2 separate regions of the Homo sapiens genome follow, and region 1 is linked to region 2. Evidence: fine-mapped expression QTL. Tissue or cell type: esophagus mucosa. Region 2 holds a variant in brackets; the other region holds the start of a gene. All regions are shown on one strand. Distances are between the middles of the regions.

The links. PIP is the estimated chance that this variant, and not a neighbour inherited with it, causes the effect.
Region 1: it holds the start of YLPM1, and the variant in region 2 is fine-mapped to the expression of YLPM1 in esophagus mucosa (GTEx, PIP 0.98).

Annotation. Positions count from the first base shown.
Region 1 is chr14:74,761,915-74,764,530 of GRCh38, reverse strand. YLPM1 (YLP motif containing 1) reads right to left here and starts at 1,215. Exons shown (of 21, transcript NM_019589.3): 1 at 169-1,215. The coding sequence starts at 1,041. RefSeq lists an enhancer at 1,168-1,507.
Region 2 is chr14:75,293,830-75,296,584 of GRCh38, reverse strand. LINC01220 (long intergenic non-protein coding RNA 1220) reads right to left here and starts at 2,181. Exons shown (of 3, transcript NR_038421.1): 1 at 2,044-2,181; 2 at 1,848-1,908; 3 at 175-465. RefSeq lists a silencer at 1,944-2,403 and an enhancer at 2,474-2,613. The variant G/A (reference allele first, on the strand shown) is at 1,370.

The DNA.
Region 1 (2,616 bases), 530 kb after region 2:
AGCTAATTAAAAAGCTGAGCTGTCAGCCCTCTGACTCTTACGGAATCCTTTGGAGTGTTAGCTAGTCATTGTGTGTTGGAATTAGACTAACCACTGGTTAAAGCCCTGAGGCCTGCTCATTCAGGGCCCTCTAGGTGAAAGATGAGGTTCAGGCAGATGCTTTCTTACCTGTGGAGTCATCGTAGAGGGATCTGGCTCAGGGGCGGCTTGCTGCTGTTCAGTACTCTTGTTTTTGGCCCCACTCTCCAAAGGCTCTTGCTGGACAGTTGTCTTATTTCCAGGGGGGGCGGACGGTGGTGGTGGAGCTAGTAGTTGGGATTTAGAATGGCCCTGGGAGGGGCGGGAAGGAGATGCCTGAGAAGAGGGCAAGTAGGACTGGGAATGGCTCAAATAGGATTGCGAGGAAGAGGAGGAGGATGAGTAAGAAGGGGTGGGCGCCAGGTAGGATTGGGAAGGTGGGGACTGCGAAGGGGACGGCTGAGCAGGAGGCAGGTAGGGCTGAGATGAGGTCGGGGGGTAGTAAGAGGGTGGCGGCTGAGGTGGGGGCATGTAAGACTGAGATGGGGGCATATAGGACCCAGGCGGCACAGGGGGAGATTCAGGGGGGGATTCCAGCTCCATTGGAACCAAACCAGGAGGCCCGTCTCGTTGGTGGTGGAGCATCTGGTGTTTGTACTGCTGCTGCTTCTGATAGCTGAGGGCCGGCCCGGGTGGCGGGGGCATCGGTGGCGGTGGCGGCTGCCAGTCTCCGTAGCCGCCCCCCGGCATCACTGGCGGGGGCGGCAGAGGGGGCGGAGGAAGGTGGTGGGGCTGAAGCACGCACTGCATTTGCTTCTGGTGCATCTGCTGCAGCTGCTGGAGCTGCGCCAAGTGCTGTTCGCGGAAGCTCATGAAGCCCGAGGAGGAGGGGGCCGCGGGAGTCGTCGAGCTCGAGTACCCGGGCCCCGGCGAGGCCTCAGGAAGCGCCACTGGCGGCGGCGGTGGGACCGGTGGCGGCGGATAGTGGCTGCTCCCGCCATACCGGCCCCAATTCGGGTACATATCGAAAAAGAAGGCGCAGGGCTCGTCCTGGCGCCGTTACTCGTCGCAACCGACCTCCAGGAGCCGCGGCGGCGACGGCGACAGCCGGAACTCGCGGCGCCTACAGGCCCCGGAGCGTGTAAACGGAGCGCGCCAGTGCGCCGGCGCTCCCGAGCTGGGCCCGCGACCGGGAAGGCGGGGACGCGACTTGGGCGACTACGTCTGCGCAGTAACCACCGAGAGGAGAACAAAGGCGAGATAGAGCGGTCCTTTACTTGGCGACTCGTGGTTGCCATCTTCCTTTGGGTTCAGATAATGTAGGCTCCAGTAGAATGTTCTCATAGAACTGAAAAACCATAGAGTCTCACAGCCGAAAGAGGTGGTAGAGATCCTATCGCTCCACGGGTTCATTTTTGAATGAAAAAAAAAAAAGGTTCCATTCACAATAGCAACAATCGCAACAACAACAAAAAAACATAAAGCAACTAGGAAAAACTCTAACAAGAAAGATGTAGGACTTATATGTAGAAAGCTACAGAGTCATAAAGAAGCATATCCAAGTAGGATGAAATTAGACTTCAAATAATGGAGAGGCTTACCATGATCCTGGGTGAAAAGAGGAAAAATTGTAAAGATGTCAGTTTCTCCCAAATTAAATGAATAGACCTAACTCAATTCTCCCCAGAAATTCAACTGGGAACAAAGCTGTGAAGAATGGAAAGGTGTTTTCAAGGCAGAGTGTAAGATTACACCAATTCCTGCAGACATATAGTGAGTAACATCTGCAGGAATTGTAGAAGGGGAGAAATGGAATTTTTTAGACTGTCTCAACACATATAAATCGGTGTTGCAGAATCTCAGAGCAAAAGCAAAGAGAGCAAAAACCAGATACAAAGATGGTCTAAAGACAACCTGGAAGATAATCTTCCAAAAGCTCTCAACGTAATACCAGACATAAACTCTTACTTTAGCTTGAGTGAATCACTAAAAAGCAAAGCTAATACACTGAATTCTTTTGGGTGTGTGGGGGGGGGCGGGGGGAGGGAGAACTGTGAGAATATTGTGTCAGTGCATCACTTGAGTAACATGCAAATAATTGACCTTTCTTCCATCTTAGCAACCCAGATCTTCACCTCTCTCAGGAGGTGAATGTGAATGGAAAGTGGAGCAGCAAGGCATCCTTCAAAAGGAAGAGCTTCTGTTTTCAAATAGAAATTTAGTTATGTTTCTTTTAACTTTTTATTGAAGTATAACGAATATACAGAAAATTACATGTCAAAAGACAAAATTACAACAAATTTAGTTTAAAGATCTTAATTAACTTTTACCTGCTATTCTAGAATTGGGCAACGTCTCATTCTATAAAGCAGAAACAGTGTTCCAATGAGCAGAACAATCGGGATAATTTCATAGACAGAAAAGAAACGCAGAGGCAGGGCGCGGGGGCTCACTCCTGTAATCCCAACACTTTTGGGAGGCTGAGGCAGGCAGATCACCAGGTCAGGAGATCAAGACCAGCCTGGTCAACATGGTGAAACCCCATGCCTACTAAAAATACAAAAAGTATCCAGGCGTGGTGGTGCTCACCTGTAATCT
Region 2 (2,755 bases):
CGTGAGCCACCGCGCCTGGCCTGAATTAGGCTTTGAAAGAAGGGACAGGGTTCCGATAGCAGGAAGAGAAAGAGCAGATTTCGCAGCAGAAGCAACAGGCATGTTTTCTGCATCCAAATCGGCCAGATCCTCAGAAAGAAACGAAAGAGAGAAAAGGCTAGAATGGTTCGTGTGTTTTGGTTTGGCTTGGGTTTTTTTTCTGTCAAGTTTTGCTATTTCCACCAAAGTGAATACAGAAAAACTCCCTTGCTGGCAGCACCGCGACGAGGCTTCTGGATTGGAGAAGGGCGCGCTGCCTCACATGTGCACTAGGGGGCAGAGCTGCCGCGGGGCTGCTGTAACTCCAAGAACAACCAGAGGGCAAGGGGAAGGATCCCAGCCCCTTCCTCAAATCAGGCGGCTGCAGGACGGGAGGGCAGTTGGAAAGCAGTCGTCTTCTTAGTCCGAGTTGCCTTCATATTCAGCCTAGAAGTTAGGGAAGAAACAGCGTGTAAGAGGAAGTTGGGTGAGACTGAAAGGGGAAAGAGAAAGAGAGAAGCATTGAAGAGGCACTCTTCCCCACCCCCAGCAAGGAACCCTCCATGTGCCATGAAAAGACTTCCAAACAGCAGAAAAGGGTTAGGGCTACTCCTGCCTCCTGCTGTAATCTTGGCTGAGAAAAGTTTAATGCAAGGCTTGGGTAACTATGAAAAGTGACCAACTGCTAGACTAAGACTGGTTTCAGAACAGCCGACTCCTGTTCCCTGGACAGGGGTGACCATTCCAGCTGCTCTAAGGAGGAATGCTTGAGGCTTTAGGAAGTACACAATTCTTGGCCATCCCCCCCAGGCCCTGGTGTCATGGTGTGGGCTGCGTGTGGCAGCAGACGTGACAATGGCGTTCTTTAAGAGCCCTGAAGTCAATATTTAGCCTAAATGTACAACCCACCAGCTGAGCCAGGCAACAGGGTTCTGAAGCACAGGAAATTAGAAGCACCTAGGCGATGTGGAACACTATTTGAAGCTAGATATCCTGACTTTTATCAGTTTCTAACTAGCTGTGCAAGTTTGGATGGTCGAACCAACTTCTCTGAGCTTTAATTTCCCTGTTGGCGAAATAGGTTAAATTAGATTAAAAGTCTCCGATGTGACTTCCAGCTCTGAAACTCTGGAAAACACACACTCCTTCAGCCAGAGGAACTGGGGAATCTAGGGGGCAGGGATGGGGGTGGGAGGATGGTGACAGGCGTCTTGAAGGATTAACCCCACGCTTCTCCTCGCAATTGCAATCGGCTCCCCAGCAGCGGCCACTGCGGCACTGCCTGCCCCACCCCCGCCCTCTGGGCCCGGCGGTACACACCCACGGCTCCCTCAGAGACTTCTGGAATCTC[G/A]CTGGATTTCTCCCAGGAATGCTTATTGCCCTTTAGATCTGCAAATCGCTTTACATCAGCAACCCTGCCGCGCGATTATTAATCATCTCAATATTCTCCCCCATCCCCTACCCTCCCCCTCGCCCGGCCTGGAAGAGGAATTGCAGGGGTCCGGATTTATGAAGGTGATTCGTATTATTCATTCAATAATCAGTTAACTAAAGTTCATTAAGCGCCTAATAGGAGCAAGGTGCAGAGACACACAAATCCAATCACCACAGGGGGCAGAACTGTAGGGGGTCGATGCTCAAAGAACTTCACTGATATTCCAGTTATGTCCTGGGGAGGGGGTGGTTAGAGGGTGATGGAAAAGCTCCCCTCACAAGCCTGATGACAGTGCTGCAACCATTATGGACCACCCCCACGGTTCGTTTTATCATGCCAGGAAAAGGAAAATGGCCTTCCCAAGGTCACTTATCCCCCGAGGGGCAACACTGACCCCAGAACCGCCGTCTTCAAAGCTTTCCACTGTGCCATGAAGGAAAATTTTGAGTTGAAGCCTATAAAATACAGCGTTGGGCGAGAGATGGCATGATTTCCGGGCACAGAGTGAGAAAATCGTGATCCCAGATCACCCACCCACAACAAACGAGACCGCCCCAAATCTTGACTGCAGCTACAACCAGCAGACGCACAGGAATGCTGGAAACAGCTCATTCATCCATCGCGGCGCCCTCTCTCTGGGCCCCCAGCGCCCCTGCCCTTGCCTCCGCCTGGGTGGGTCCCGGGACAGGAGGCGGGGGTCTCGTGGCTCGGAGCCTTCGCCCAGCATTCCAGGGGCGGGGCAGGGACCGGGGGCGGGGCGCGGCGGGAGTCCCGCCCACAGCCTACCCCGGGCCGGCGGCGCAGTGGCTGAGCCAAATATGGGCAGAGCGGAAGCGGCGGGCCGGCGTCACGGCGCCGGGTGGGGGCCGCGCTGCGGGGCGGTGACGGGAGTCGCTGACGGCGCCTACGTGTCACCGTGGAAACCAAACAGTAAACAGAGGACTCGCGAGCTCCTGGCACCGTCTGGCCCTGCGACCTGCCCTGGAGCAAAGGGCCGGAAGCTGGGAAGGGCCAGGAGAAACCTTGGCCTGGCCGACGAGGACAGGGGCGCGGCAAGGGTGTAGAGAGGGCGGTGGAGGGGACGCTGAGAGAGCACTCCCAAACGTCCCTCCCTGAGGTCCCTGGAAGCCGGCTCTCCCTCTGCCCACGGGCCAGCAGGGGCTGGTCAGGAGCGGAAGGAGGCCCTCCTGTCCCTTCTTTTTCTTTTCCTTTGTTTTTTTTTTTTTTTTTTTTTTTTTTTTTGAGATGGAGTCACGCTCTATCGCCCAGGCTGGAGTGCACTGGCGCGATCTCTGCTCACTG